Linked DNA regions of Homo sapiens: region 1 is linked to region 2. Evidence: fine-mapped expression QTL. Tissue or cell type: whole blood. Region 2 holds a variant in brackets; the other region holds the start of a gene. All regions are shown on one strand. Distances are from middle to middle.

Evidence for each region. PIP is the estimated chance that this variant, and not a neighbour inherited with it, causes the effect.
Region 1: CACNA1I starts here. The variant in region 2 is fine-mapped to the expression of CACNA1I in whole blood (INTERVAL, PIP above 0.99).

Annotation. Positions count from the first base shown.
Region 1 is chr22:39,566,538-39,574,632 of GRCh38, reverse strand. CACNA1I (calcium voltage-gated channel subunit alpha1 I) reads right to left here and starts at 3,880. Exons shown (of 37, transcript NM_021096.4): 1 at 3,645-3,880. The coding sequence starts at 3,880.
Region 2 is chr22:39,726,397-39,734,497 of GRCh38, reverse strand. No RefSeq gene overlaps it. Among named protein-coding and RNA genes, the nearest start is that of CACNA1I, 160 kb to the right of the region's middle. The variant A/T (reference allele first, on the strand shown) is at 3,545.

The DNA.
Region 1 (8,095 bases), 160 kb after region 2:
ACCGTCAACCCCCAAATGCCAATGGTGTCCCATTGAGGAGTACAAGCTTAAGCACTGCCCCAGGCCCCCTCCCACAGAGCACAAGAGGGAGTGAAGTTTCCAGCCAGGAAAGAATCCTAGAGGCTTCAGCCCCTGCCCCACCCACACACGCACCCCATCCCAAGCCCCTAAAGCCCACCCTGAGCTCCCCACGACTGAGTCTCTGCTCCAGGGGACAGCCCTATGGACAGCCACGTCTCCTGGGTCTCTGTTTGTGGAACCCTCCTTGGCCCCTCTCCCACCTGACCCAATTCAGCTATGAACTCTCAGGCCAGCAGCGGCTGCAGCCACCGGGTCCAGAATCCTCCAACTCGTAGGCACACAGCATCACAGCCACCAAGTCTTAGGCTCACACACTCTTTGAAACACAGAATTTTGCAGCCTTTGAATGACAGAAGCTTAGAATTTCAGTGTCGCTGAGCCTTAAATCTTAACTTTGAACCCTTAGACTGTCGCAGAAGTTTTCAGTCTGAGTGTCCCAGAGCTGACACCTTTAAAGTTGCTGTGCTTTTGAGTCGCCACATCTCTGGCCTGAAGAGAGTCCGTATCCCACCAGTTAAGGCCGAGACCTGAACCACCTCTATCCCAGTCCAGCCTCAGCAGCCCTGGCCATGGGGATGCCGGGGGAACCCTCGCTCTGCGCAGCTCCCGGGACTGAAAAGTCCCTCCTGATGGAGGGGGGCTGCTTTCTGCCCCACCCCTTGGACCCAGGGCTCTCTCCAAGACAGACAAGAGGCAGGCCCAGCTCCTCCCGAAACCAGTACTCCTCTCCCTCCTGGGCCAGCCCCACTGTTGTCTCCAACCCCAGGCCACAACCCACATGACCTGAGGATGGAGGTGAGAGGGGTGGTGAAAACCAAGGAGACAGTGGCCCCAAGGACTCTGTTTGCCCAACAGGCCAGAAATATGGAAAACTGGGTGGGTTCCCAGGGGCTGGCTCACTCAGTGGTCAGGCGTCAGGGTGCCTGAGATCAAGGCAGCCCCCATGGCGTGTGTGGCTAACACCCTGGGCTCCCAGGGCTGGAAGGGGTGATTCGTCTGCCGTCTCCTTTTTAGGTGGAGGTGCTGAGGCTCAGAGAGAGGAGACTGCCCAGGGTCACACACATGGCAGACAGGACTTGACCACCCCCATCTAGGGGCCTCTCCGTGACACGTGGGCAGCACCCCAGCCAGCCCAGCCAGAGCCCATCAGAGACGCAGCTGGGTCAGACTCCCAGGCCAAGTCCTCTGAGCCATGCCCCTGCCTCCAGCCCAGAGCAGTATTGCCCATCCAGACCCCCTAAGGTTCAAAGAAGCAAAGTGACTTACTCATGGTCACACAGCACCCAAGTGACAGAGCCAGAATCAACTCTTGTCATCTCACCCAGGAAAGGCCCCTGAGACATTGTGAAATTGTCCCCCTGGTCCTCCTACCAGCCTTTCTCTTCCTAAAGGCCCAAAATTCCTGCGGCCGCCCCCTTCTCAGGCCTGGCACTCCTCTGTTCACATGCCACAAGCCCCTGAGGTTTCCCCAGTGCTTTGTATTAAAACTAGCCACGTAGGCTGGGCACAGTGGCTCACACCTGTAATCCCAGCACTTTGGGAGGCCGAGGCAGGCGGTTCACGAGTCAGGAGTTCGAGACCAGCCTGACCAACATGGTGAAACCCCATCTCTACTAAAAATACAAAAATTAGTAGGGCATGGCGGTGGGTGCCTGTAGTCCCAGCTACTCGGGAGGCTGAGGCAGGAGAATTGCTTGAACCTGGGAGGCGGAGGTTGCAGTGAGCCGAGATCGCGCCACTGCACTCCAGCCTGGGTGACAGAGCGAGACTCCATCTAAAAAAAAAAACTAGCCAAATGGGTGGTCCCTGCTTCCCTCTTCCCCGGGCACTCCCTGGGACAGACACCAGCTCTGCCTCTTTGTCCTCAGTGTCCCAGGGCAGATGTCAGTGAGTGCTGGGTGAACTAATTACCGAGCAGACCCTCTCACCAAGCCTGAGACGCTGTGAGCCGTCCCCCAGAAGGAGCAGGGAGGCTCTTAGCCCCCACCCAGCAAGGAACACCCAGTTCTGCATCCCACTCCAGCAGAGACCCGCTGGTTTCCAAAAGTTAGGGGGATCCAGGGCCCACGATCACCTCAGCCCCCTACAGAAGGGAAGCCTGGCAGTCCTGCAGCCAGTCTCAACATCCCAGCCTGCATCTGGCATCCCTGGATTCCAGGGCAGGACTCAGGCCTGCACCTGACCCACCAGCTCCCCGCACCCTGCCCTGTGTGGCCACAAGCACCAGAACCTCGAGCCACATATGGGCATTTTTTGGTGGGACCCTCAAACCACAAGGCCACCATGGCTTGGGTCCCCAAGCCTCCTCCTCAGTGGTCCCCAGCCCCCACTTCACCCTGCAAGCCAGTGCCACACAGTCCTTCCAGAGCACAGATCTCTCCAGACCCTGCTTCAAATCCTGCCCTTGGAGCACAGTCCCATCCCTCATGCAGCCTCCAAGGCCCTGCAGGGCTCCCGCCACACCTGCAGCCTCACCTCACTCCTCTCTGCCCCTCAGGGCTCCAACACTGCCTGCAACTCCTCCCTTCTCCAGGCTTCGCTCCTGCCATGCCCTCCTCCTGCCTCCCACTACCCTCTCTACCCAACCAACGCTCTTCCTTATTGAGGAGTCAGCTCTGGCATTGCCCATGTACACCCAGCAAACACTGCCAGAGCACCCACGATGTGCCAAGCACTGTGCCAGGTGCTAGGGTCCCCATCCCAGTCATCTGACAGTACCCCAGGGGAGGCAAATGTTAGATTCAGAATTCCACAGTTAGATGTGACAGTTAGATATGAAGCAGAGGAGGAATCCCAGAGGGCTTCCCTGAGGAGGTGATGCTTAAGCTGGGATTTTAAGGATGTAGCAAAGGATTTGGCCAGGTCCAGGGGGAAGGGAAAAGCTTTTCAGACAGGGGGAAGAGCCAGTGAGAGGACCCTGAGGCTCAGAAGAGCACAGGGGGGAAGCCAAGTGGTGGGAAGTGAGGCTGGGTGGAACACACAGGCCCTGATGGGTTGGATTAGGACTTTGCTCTGCACCTCCAGGACCATAGCAAATCATGACAGTCTTAAGCAGGGGGAACATGAGCCCACTGGAGGCAGCAAGTGGAGGCAGGAGGCCTGGGAAGAGGCTGCTCGGAGGCACAGTAAGGAGAATGAGTCCTGCCCTGTGTGTTGGGATCGGCTGCCCCGCTGCCCACGCCCACAGTTCCTGATCACGGCTCCCATCCTCTGTATGGTCACGGCCCATCAGGTGGCTCCAGAGTCTGACTGATCTGCATTCCCAGCCCAGCACAGGTCTGGGGCCCACACTCAAGGACTTTCTGAGCCAGCCAGCCACTGGACTGACCCCACAGCCACCAGCAACTTCCAGAACCTTCACATCAGCAGAACACCAGGTCCTCATCCATTTGAGGTCTCCCCAGACCCACCCTCTGAGCTCGCTCACCACCACCAAGGCCCAGTGGCCTCACCGCAGACCTCAGGTCTCCCAGCCGGAGCAAGGTGTGAGCAGCAGGACTCAATCCAGCCCCCCACCCTTCAGCCCCTGCAGGGCCCCGATCAGCCGAGGCTGCGGAGGATATGGGTTGCACACCATCTTGATGCACCAGTTCCGGGGGCTGGTGGTCTGTCGCAGGCAGAAGAAGGCAATAGGCGCCAGGTCTGGGTGTGGGACATGAGGATCAGCTCCATCCAGAGGCTCCTCCAGGCCTGGCGGGGAGGATGGGGGGCTCCGGGGTCCGGGCTGCTCCGTGGTGACTCCTGGCTCAGCGGCTGGGGCTGCTGCAGATGAGGAGGGCGGGGAGGCGCTCTCAGCCATGTCCACACTGAGCTGGGAGCCCTGGGGAAGACAGAGAGGGTGGCACGTGGTGGGGACAGGCCTGGTACATGCTCCCCAACCTGCCTCTCCACCAATAAGTGGACGGATGCAGCTCTGACAGCCCCACCTGAGCCCCACAGGCCCCTCACCCTCACTCTTGCATGAGGATTACGAAACAGCTGAGGGCCCAGCTGCACCCAACTTGGAATCTGCTTCCAAGCTGGGTGATCATGGGGCAAGTCTGCTCACCCTGGCTGAGCCTCAGTTTTGGCAAACGAAGATAGTGGGGAGAATAAAGCCTTCTTAGAATATAATTGTGATATTAACTCTTTTTTTTTTGTCTATTGGCAATTTTCTGTATTTGAAATCTTTCATTATTTAAGAGAAAAAATGTTTAAGTAATTATAGACAGAAAAGAAAGACGGAAGGGAGGGAGAGAGGGAGAGAGGGAGGGAGGGAGGGAAGAAAGGAAGGAAGGAAGGAAGGAAGGAAGGAAGGAAGGAAGGGATCTTAACTTTTTTACAAGACTAGAGCTATGTATTTATTGCACCATCAAAGGTAAAGAAAACTTGCAAGAAAAAAGAGGTGATTGTAAAGACAGACATTATTGCCAGGACAATGCAGGTTACAAAGGCAATGTTGGGGTGCTGCAGAATCAGAGACTGGGGGAACGCTGGCAAGCCAGGAGGGAATCACAGTTGGCTTCCCTGAGGAAGTAACCCCTGAGCTGAGACCTACAGCTGAGCCCTTGACCCAGGGACCTCCCAGCCACTGCCTTACAAGGCTGAGAACCCAGGAATCTTAGAGTCTAACCTCCTTGCCTTACAGATGAAGAAACCGAGGCCCAGAGAAGGGACAGGACAGACATGTAGCAGAGTAACAGCAGAAATAGAATTCCAGTCAAAGGCCAGGCACGTGACTCACACCTGTAATCCCAGCACTTTGGGAGGCCAAGGTGGGTGGATCACCTGAGGTCAGGAGTTTGAGGCCAACCTGGCCAACATAGTGAGACCTCATCTGTACTAAAAATACAAAAATTAGCTGGGTGTGGTGGCACACGCTGTAATCTCAGCTACTCGGGAAGCTGAGGCATGAGAATCACTTGAACCCGGGAGGTGGAGGTTGCAGTGAGCCAAGATCACACCACTGCATTCCAGCCTGGGCAACAGAGCAAGACTCTGTCACCAAAAAAAAAAAAAAAAAAGAATTCCGGTCAGAGCCCGCTTCCTGGGTCTGTGGCTCAGGCAGCTGCACAGGGCCCCGTGCTCAGAAGGGCCCTGAACTTGCTTTAGAATTCTTCTGTCACCAACATGAAATTCTTAATTGCTTATCAAGAGGTCCCACATTTTCATTTTGTTCTAGGTGATGCAAATCATCTTGCTGGCTCCGACTCCAACTCAAAGCACTTCTACTCCCTGGCCTTGTCTGATGCTCACAACAACCTCAGGAGGACTATTATGCCCATTTGGCAGGTGAAGAAACTGAGGCCAAGAGAACAAAGCGGGTTGTCAAGGCTATGCACCCAGCCAAGTGAAGCACTAGGTGGTGTTGAGAGGCCAGAATCCCAGCACCAGACCCCCAGGCGGGCTTCATGACAACTGATGGTGCCCTCGCTGGCCGAGAGCCTCCGCAACCAGTCAATGGCAAGATGGGACGGACAGCCACTCCCAGGGCCTGCCCCTCACCACCTCACCCCAAAGGGTACTAGTCCCTAAAACTTTGTCCACTGGGGTCCCTGGGATCCTAGAACCCCTACAGGGCCAGTCTGAGCCGTGGGATTGAGAGATGGGGTCCACGTCCCTGGTGCCCACCCAGCTGCTGCTGGGCTGTCGACCAAGCCACCCGGAGCTGATGCATTTGGACATTTCTCTGGCTCCCGGGGGCAACGGGCAGGGGTTGGCACCTCCTGCCACTTCCCCTGGCTGGTCAGGGAGGCGGAGTTTTCTCCTGAGCTCAGGGCTTTGCTCTTGATTCCAGAAAAACAGCCACGGGCCTTACATAAGCTCCCAGGCACCTTGGCCTGCCACGTGTCAACCTCCTGGGCTGAAACGCACCCTCCCTAGGGTGGTTCCAGCTCTGCCCACCACCGTGCCAGCCTCGGAGCCCACCACTCCCTCCCCTGGCCATTTGCTCTGGCCAGATTGGACCTCCTCAGGTCCTAGGCCCTGCTCCCGCTCTTCCCTCTCACTGGGGCACCTTCTCCTTCCGCCCAGGCCCTGTTCTCCCAGGCCCTACTGATTCATTCATTTGCCCAATGAGCACCTACTATGTGTGGGCACTGTGTGGGCTTCGGGCTATGCTGGGGCACGAGCCAGACTCAGCACCAGCCCCCATTCAGCCCACACTTCCGCAGAGGAGAGAGACACACCGATCAATTAATTTCTCTCTTTCTGCTTTTCCACAACTCTTATCACCATCAAACACGGTGCATAATTTATGTCTTTATATCTCCATGATTTGGTGTCTGTCTCCCCAGCCTAAGAGAAGCCTGTAAGGGAGGTGTATCCCCTCACTGCTGTATCCCCAGCACCTGGAATGGTGCCTGGAGCATACTAGGTGCTCAATCGATATTTGTTGACTCAGTGAATAAAAAGTGCTGGGAAGTAAATAAACAAGGGGAAAGGTGGGAGTGGAGACAATCATCTTGCCCTCTCTAAAGGAAGAGATGTTTAAGTGAAAACCAAGACGCGGGAGGCCGCAGCCCTGACTGATCTGCTGGAAGAGCACAGGAGGAAGAGCACGTGCGAAGGCCAGGAGAATGGGGCCCGCTCGGTGCATTTAAGGAACACAAGCGAGGCCGAGCCTCGGGCAGGGAGGCGGATGAAACCAAAGAGTTCAGCAGGGCCCTGGGGGAGAACACAGAGGAGCGTGGGTTTTATCCCAAGTTCAGTAGAAGCCACAGGTGGGTTTTAGGCAGGGGAGTGGTGTGCTCTGGTCTGTTTCTAAGCCATCTCTCCAGGGGCTGAAGGGAGAGTGGATGAAGGGGAAGGGGTGGAGCAGGAAGGGCTGGGAGGAGCTGGGCTGGCCTGCCCTTGGCTGCTGGTGAAGACAGGGAGAAGGCGGTGGATTGAGATTTATTCTCGAGGTAAAGCACCTGGTCTCGCAGCAACTGCAGTGGCCCACCTGCAACCCTCGCCCCAGCATTACCGAAGTCCTTCCTGAAACCACACAGGTGGAAAGAGCTCCCCCGGCCTCCGGGACTGCACAAAACTACCCACTTCCTGCCTCTGGGCTACGTCGCTTGCACTGACTTGCTTGTTGCCTCTCTTGGCTTGTTTAATGCCGCCACACTGTGCTGCCCTCTGTGCTCACACCTCTCCCCTCACTGTGGTGCTCCCAGAAACCACACCCCTAAGGCCACCACCCTCAACTCTCTCCCCAGTGTCCACCCAGCCTCCACCCTCTGACCTGCTCCCAGCGGCCACCCAGCCTCCACCCTCTGACCTGTTCCAGTGACCACCCAGCCTCCACCCTCGGACATGCTTCCAGTGACCACCCAGCCTCCACCCTCTGACCTGTTCCCAGTGACCACCCAGACCATCTCCCTCTGACCTGTTCCTTAGCAGCTTCCCAGGCCACTACTCCCTGACCCACTCCCCACTCCCAAAGCCCCCAAGTCCAGTCCAGATATCTCTCTTTCCTGTGTCTGTGGCCTAGCTCCTATCGCAGGTGCCTGTGTGCCCATGGCTGGAAGCCCTGAGGGGACTGGCAGCTGGGCCTCCCTGGGCTCCAATCTGTCCGCAGTCACAGAGACTAAAGGACTTGCTTTAGGTGACAGCATTGGTGGATTCAAACTCAGGTCCATCAGGTGCCAGAGTCTGAGCTGCCTCCACATCCCTGAGTCCCCTTCTTCTAGGTGCTCCCAGGACCTAACCCTGATGCTCCTTCCCCTGAGTAGCCCACCAAGCAGCAGTGTGGCAATTAGGCTGGCCTCCAAGAGCAGGGATAGGAGCAGAAGCCTGCTGTGTCTGGAACACAGACCCCCATTCCTGACTCCGTCAGCTTCTTAGAGCCTCAGTTTTTCTCTGTAAAGCTCAGCCCTCCTCCAGCCTGCTTCAGCAGGCTCTTGTTAAGAAGCAACATGATGGGCTGCCAGGTGTGGTATCTCACGCCTGTAATCCCAGCATTTTGGGAGGCCGATGCGAGTAGATCATCTGAGGTCAGGAGTTGGAGACCAGCCTGGCCAACATGGTGAAACCCCATCTCTACTAAAAA
Region 2 (8,101 bases):
TTCAACCATTGGGGAAGACAGTGTGGCGATTCCTCAAGGATCTAGAACCAGAAATACCATTTGACCCAGCAATCCCATTACTGGGTATATACCCAAAGGATTATAAATTATTCTACTATAAAGACACATGCACACGTATGTTTATTGCAGCACTATTTACAGTAGCAAAGACTTGGAACCAACCCAAATGCCTGTCAATTATACACTGGATAAAGAAACTGTGGCACATGTACACCATGGAATATTATGCAGCCATAAAAAAGAATGAGATCATGTCCTTTGCAAGGACATGGATGAAGCTGGAAGCCATCATTCTCAGCAAACTAACACAGGAACAGAAAACCAAACACCACATGCTCTCACTCATAAGTGGGAGTTGAACAATGAGAACACATGGACACAGGGAGGGGAACATCACACACTGGGGCCTGTTGGGGGGTGGGGAGGGGACAAGGGGAGGGAGAGCATTAGAACAAACACCTAATGCATGCGGGGCTTAAAACCTAAAATACAGGTTGATAGGTGCAGCAAAGCATCATGGCACATGTATACCTACGTAACAAGCCTGCACATTCTGCACATGTATCTCAGAACTTAAGGTAAAAGAAAAAAAAAAGAAAACCTTAAAAATAAAATAAATGTTAAAAATGGGGTTGAAGCCAGGTGCAGTGGGGCCTGTAGTTTTAGCTACTCATGAGACTGAAGCAGGAGGATTGCTTGAGCCCAGGAGTTCAAGGCCACCCTGGACAACATAGTGAGACTCTATCTCTAAATAGGGATGAGCTCCAGAATTCCGGTTTAATAATAATAATAGTAGTTGACACTTAACAAACACTAACAATGTCACGAGCATGTTTTAATCCTCTTAACAACCCTACCGGGAAGGTTAGATCGTCACATTGTATATGAGAAAACAGAGACTAAAATGAGCTAAGGAACTTGTCCAGGGCCACACAGGCAGTAGTCAGGGTCAAAGCCAGACCTTGAACCATGGTCTTGCTTAGAGCTACACACTGCCTCACAGTTGGTGCCATTGGCTGGGCCAGGCAGATGGGAAGAAGGGGAACAGGTCCAGCCGGGCCATCCCTTGCTTCTGCCTTTCCACCCCTGCCCCTCAGTCTCATCCTGCTCTCAGGCTGCCCCAGTCCCACTGCCAGGAGCTGCTGGGCTGCAGCCGCACCCCAGACCCTCTGGATCTTCTTTTGGTGCCTCCCATTTCTGAAGAGTTGTCTGCCTCCACCCACACTTCCCAATCCCTTCCCTGCCCCTTTCATTTCAAGACCCAAATTAGCAGAGGCTGGGACAGGAGTAGAACATTTTTAGAGCTGGTTTGGAGATGAAGAGCCTGTCCCAATTTCTCTTTCTCACCTAATCAAACCTTGAGAATGTCATGGAGCCCCCACACACTTTGATTTTAATTGGGGACTGTTGTCACTGTTTCACCCTGGGGGAGAATTTTCGTTTACTACAATGGGGTCTCTGTCTCTGGAGTATGTAATATGCTCCTGAAAATCACACAGAGCAACCCAGAAATAGCCAACAGAGACTAAAGAAAAAAATATGAATTCAGGGACATAAAGCAATAATATGTCCATACTTTTGAAAAATAAAGTGGGGGCACTTAGTAGTGTCTCTTTAGCGGTTAGTTTCATCATCCCTGTGCTGCCGATGGGCGTCTGCTTTCCCTCCACACGCATTGTGTAGGGGAGTGGCCGGGAGGGCCACCAACCCCAAAGGAGCAGCTTCTGTTCACATAAAACCTGTTCTGTTCCACCTGTGCACGCCCTCGCCACCTCCCCAAAGCCAAAAGTCGGGGGGGAAAATGAGAAACAGCACCTCACTGGATTAAGCCAAATGTGAGGGTAAACACAATGTGAAAAGCACCAATTCCAAGGATAAAGAGAACCAGCAAAAGAGGAAAACAAGCCCGTCACCCCGCGCCAGTAAGAAGGCCAGGTTTAGCCGATCTCACAGGAGAACAGATCTAACTCCTGGGGACCAGCAGCGCCGAGAGCTTCTCTCCATTTCACAAGGTCAGAATGGTAAGTCAGTAGCAGACCCACTGCAGACAGCATCGGCTGGCAGCCGGAAAGCCTTTGGAGAAGGGACCGATGGGACCTCACTGAGAAGCTGATTGGAGGATGACAGAAGCAGGCAGGGGCAGGAGGTTGGTCTTCCTGGCAGGCAGGGAGGCATGGTCTCCAGGGGGCAGGCCCAGCAGGCTCACTGCTTCATTGTCCCCCCTGGGGCTGTCAAGGATCCATTTAGCCACAACTCTCGTGTGTTCATATGTACACGAGGGAGGGACCCTTACAGAGAGGCACAGGAGCTGCACCTCCAGCCCTGTCCATCAGATCCTCGTGTGTGCCCCAAAGTAAATAGGAGCCACCAGAAGCTGTGAGACCTGCAGGGGGATGGGCTTTCCGAACCCTCTCCACAAAGGCTGCCCAGCAGAGGGGGTGGCCTTTCCACTGAGCTCTGCTCCTGACCACGTCTTGTCCTTCCCAGGGGAATTTGTCTGCAGCTCAACAGATGGGTGCCGGTGTACTCACTTGTCTGTGGGGACCACTACTGAGTGTGTTTCTGCCACCTCTGCCTCTAAATTGTCATTGCTGTATTGATAAGGATGGCTGCAATTATCGCCTTAACTAGCCATGGTCCCCGTCAAGGACAGGAATAGTGTGTGGCTTAGGAACAAGGGGTCCCACAGCTCTTACCTGCTGCTTGGCGGGGGTGGGGGTGGCTGCCAAGTGTCATCCAGGGGCCTGTGGCTCTCTGCTTTGTTTTACTGTAGGAAGCTCTGGGAGGAAAAAGTGAACCCACAAGTTAGCGGGATACACTGGTTGTTTGCCTCAGAAGGTGTCCACTGCTCAGTCTGGCCAAGTCCCCTGGGCCTTGTGCTTCCTGACACTTGTGGAGCACTCTACAGTCGGCAAAGCACTTACCACATCTCTGTTTGGCCTCATTGCCCCCTGGAGAGCTAGGCAGAGGAGGAATGGAGGACTCAGAGAGGCTGGGTCACTAGCTTGAGGTCACACAGCTCTGAGCAGTGGGCTGGTGCCTCCCTCAAGATTTCTGATGCGAGCCATGTCTTAGTCATTTGCGCTGCTGTAACAAAAGGCCATTGGCTGGGTGACTTGCAGACAAGAGAAACGTAGCCCTCACAGTTCTAGAAAACTTCTCATTATAGCGTCATGAGGCAGGAAAGAGGGTGAGAGAGCTTTCTGGGGTCTCCTTTATAAAGGCACTAATCCCACATGAGGGCCCCACCCTCGTGACCTAATTACCCCCCAAAGGCCCCACCTCCTAATGTCATCACATTATAGGTTAGAGTTTTGACATCTGAATTTGGGAGGGACACATTCAGTCCATAACAGGAGGCATCCTCTCCCGCTGGTTATACGGCCCCCAGCCCCCTCCCCTAGCACAGGGAAGCATCAGGATTCAGTCAGCTGCCAACAACTCAACATGGAGTCCCTGCCCTTAAAATTGTCACATATATATATATATATATATATATATATATATATATATATACACATAT[A/T]TATTTTTTTTTTTTTTGAGACGGAGTCTCGCTCTGTTACCCAGCATGGAGTGCAGTGGCGTGATCTCGGCTCACTGCAAGCTCCGCCTTCTGGGTTCAGGCCATTCTCCTGCCTCAGCCTCCCGAGTAGCTGGGACTACAGGTGCCTGCCACCACGCCTGGCTAATTTTTTTGTATTTTTTGGTAGAGACGGGGTTTCACCATGTTAGCCAGTATGGTCTCGATCTCCTGACCTTGTGGTCTGCCCGCCTCAGCCTCCCAAAGTGCTAAGATTACAGGCGTGAGCCACCGCGCCCAGCCTCTATATTCTTAATCTCATAGATTAGCTTTGTTTAAGCCATCGACATATTTCATCATCTCTAATATATAGAAATTAGTGTTTTCATGTGGCTCATTAATCTTGGCTTCTTCCTCTAAGAAGGTCAAAGTTATTGGAAATGATGTTACACAAAACCAGGACCCCTCAGAGTCTGCAGATGAGCTGAAGCAGGAGGGTGGTTATCACTGATTTCGTCTAGATGCCTAAATGACAGTCGGTAAGAGGGTGAATTTCAGCGACCAATCTGCTGCGGTCTGTGGTGATGCTGTTCCGCTGTTTACCATTAGAGCATAGCGGTGTTTGCCACGTTCTTAGCATGTGATCATTACCACATGGAAAAATAAACACAGATGCTTCAATATTAATAGACAATCAATTAATTCCTTAAAATTGCAAATGTTAAAGAGTTTGTAAATAACCCTGGGAGTGGGACAGGGTTGGGAGTGAGCACGTGTCTTTCCCGTGATTTCTCTGCGGGAGGAATGCCCAGGTCTCCAGGCCTTGCGGAGTGTTCATCTATACCCTGGGCAACACAGCGGCACTTACAATGTGATACGATAAGAACACGATCTTTACCACAGCTCTTTGGGGGCAGAGGCGGGGGACGGGGGGCGACTTCCGGTGCGAATACTGGTGTTACCAGAAACATCACCAAAGCCCTCGGCCAGAAGCTGAGCTGTTCTGTTTGCTACAGGGCCCTGATTTTGCAGAGGAAGAGGGCTGTCGTCACTGGGAACCAAGATGAGGGGTTCCAACAGCAGAGGGGAACCAAGTGCACCACGATGTCCCCTGTACTAGTTCCCTGGGGCTGCCCTAACAGGGAGCCACAGACTGGGTGACTTAAAATACCAGAAGCTGATGGTCTCCCAGTTCTGGGAGCCTGGGATACAGGCATCAGAAGGCTCAGTTCCCTCTGAGGGCGTCAGGGAGAATGCAGCACAGGCCCCCTTTCTGTTGCCACTCTCCTGGTGGCGGCAGTCCGTGGCGTGCCTTGGCCTGTCCTCTGCCTGGCCGCAGCCTTCTCCCGGTGCCTCTCCACATCATTCCCTAAGCACGTGGCAGTCTCTGCCTCCAAATTTCCCTTTGATAACAGCACGAGGAGATTGACTTAGGGCTCACCCCATGGCCACATCTTCATTTTATTACCCTTATAAAGACCCTGTTTCCAAATAAGGTCACATGCAGAGGCACCTGGGGTTGGGACTCCAGCATATCTTTTCTGAGGAACACAGTTTGACCTGTAACCCTTTTCCCACAGGCAGCCTCTCCTCTACTCAGATGTGAACACACACTTCAACAAAAGCAGGCACCTCCCCCGGGAACTCACTGGGCTTGGCCCAGTTCTGATCCCAGCAGAACTCGGTGTAACCCAAGGCCAGCCCTTCTGTGTGGCCTTGTCACCATGAGGAAACTACACACAGGTGTGGGAGGCACCTGCTTCTGGAAGGCACAGTTCCTGGGATCAGATCGTCCTGGTTTGAGCCCAGGCCCTGACCCTTCCTGGCTCTGCGGCCCTAGACCGTACTCAGCCTTTCCAGGCCTCTGTTCCTTCGACTGCCTCGGAAAGTCATCATACCCACCTTGCCTGGTTATTGTGAGAATTAAAGGAAATCATGCTTACAAGATGCCCTGGACATAGAAGATGCTCAAAAATTATTAGTCTCCTTCTCTCATCTCCATGATTCCCACGTCTTGCATAGTCCTGGGATTTTAGGTTGACCTGACACTGTTCGATGATTCCGCAGCACGTGTATGCTCCTCCAGCTGAATTCGCGGTTCCGTTAATTGACAAGGAGGAGCATCTTTCGGTGCCTGGCTTTTTGGCATACACCAAGGGTACCAAGTCGCTGATGTGCTGCCTTCTTTGAAAAGGATATAGGCCAAACCCCAGCCTGGAACTGACTGACTGTCGCAGCATCTCTCCAGGTCCCACCTTGCGTGGGCCTTTGTGTCTGCCATACAGAAATCAATTGCCCTGCTCCAGGAGCCTGCCTCCCAAGGAGTAGCACTCAGAAGAGAACAGCTGTGCCAGGGCGGCGTCCCTCTGGTCGGGGGCTCTAACAGACTCTCACCTCCCAACCCCCACCTCAGGGCAGATGAGGCTGTCACCTGCTTCAAAATGATGCTTGTTGGGAGGGCTGCCCTTTGCTGGGGTCACCGCCACCTCACTTTTGTAGGTTCAGAAACGCTCACTTTATCAGCCTTTCTGGAGGGGCTCAAGCCCAAAGAGTGTGGATTGGAATAGCCCAGACCCAAAGACCGCTTCATGGGCCAGGGAAGCTTCTAGCTCCAGACTCTCCAGGATCTATTCATTTGTTTATTTAGTCATCCATTCAGTGCACACCGTGGAGGGCTAAGCACTTCCCCATGTTAACTCACTTAATCCTAAATATAATCCAGACAGGTATTGTCAGCCTCCCTCTTACAGATGGGGAAACTGAGGTTTGAAGGTCAAGTGATTTTCCCACATGCCTGCTCTAGTGGTGAGCACAGGATAAAGTCAGGAAGAGCACGGGAGACCAGCGAGAAAAGCCAAAAGCCATGGGAAGAGGAGACTGGGGCGGCGGGGGGTGGTGGCGGGGGGTGGCGGCGGGGGCCGGGCAGACTGAAAACCTGGGGGGCACCAGTTCAGCAGGACAATACGTGAGTGTTTTAGGGACTATGAACTGCTGCCTGGCATCTTCCCACCTCTTTAAGGCATCTCTAGCTAACCACAGATGTGCCCCCCAGAAAGCATGCCCTTCTTAAAATCCTTAAGCCAATGCGTTCCATCAGCTTTTGCGAAGTTATGGTGTGGGAGCAAGCCCGGTCCCCAGCGGCTTAGAGCACTCACGGTTTGTTTCTCACTCGGGGTAAACATCAGCTGCTGTCGGATGAGGCTCTGACTCACACATCTCCATCTTTCCGGGATCCGGGCTGAAGGAGTGGCCACGTTCTCATGGCAGAGGAGAAAGAACACCGGCGGGACCGCACGACAACTTTTACAACTTCTTGCAAGTGTTGCTTCTCTCCTATTTTCTTGGCCAAAGTGAGCCATGTGGCCGAGCCTGCTGTCACTGGGGCAGAAAATAATTGGCAATATAAACTACAGTCACAGGTTATTGATACTGCTGGTCTCCATTTTCTAGTTCACAAAATGGAAAGAATATCAGTTCCCTCTTAATGAGGCACTTACAAAGATTAAATGAAATATGGCCGGCAGCACAGTACATTGTAAATTGACTTACAATTTCCTAGTGCCCAGCACAGGGGCTGGCATAGAGTGGGTGCTCAATAGACATTTGTGGAACTTTATTCATCAACAAATATTTACTGCACACCTGCTCTGTGCCAGGAACTATTCTAGGCTATTCTAGGCTAGCTTTTAGGATCTAATAGAGAACAAGACAAGCAAGATCTCTATTCTCATGGACCTCACGTTCCAGTTAGTGGGAAACAGACAACAGACAGCTAAGAACTTCAGAGAGTGGTAAGAGCTGTCAAGAAAATGAAACAGAATTAATAAGAAACAGGGTAGGGAGTAAAACTAATCTAGCCAGGCACAGTGGCTCATGCCTGTAATCCCAGCACTTTGGGAGCCAAGGCAGACGGATTGCTTGAGCTCAGGGGTTTGAGCCCAGCCTGGGCAACATGGAGAAACCCTATCTTTACAAAAAAAAAATACAAAAATTATCCAGGCCTGGTGGTACATGCCTATAGTCCCAGATACTCAGGAGGCTGAGGCAGGAGGATCACCTGAGGACGGGAGGTCAAGGCTGCAGTGAATCGTGATCATGCCACTGCACTGCAGCCTGGGCAACAGAGTGAGACCCTGTCTCAAAAAAATAAAGACTAATCAAGAAAGACTCCCCCAGATAGGTAACTTTGAGCTGAGATCTGCATGATGAGGAGCCAGTCTTGAAAAGATAAAAGGTAACAACATCCTGGGCAGAAAGGGGATCCTGCGTGCAAAGGCCCTGAGGCCAGGACGAGTTTAGGAAGGCCACTCAGGCAGGGGTGTCCCGAGCACATGGCAGAGCCACAAAGAAGGACGTCGGAGACCAGGAGGAGTTTAAGAAAGTCACTTAGGCAGGGGAGTCCCGAGCACATGGCAGAGCCACACAGAAGGACGTCAGAGAAGCAGGCAGGGAACTTCATCCCTTTTCTAGTCTCTTGCTGTCCTTTCTAGCACATAAATCCTTTAAGGACAAGGTCACCAGAACCTAGCGCAGTGCCTGGAGCATCCCAAAGATCTGGGA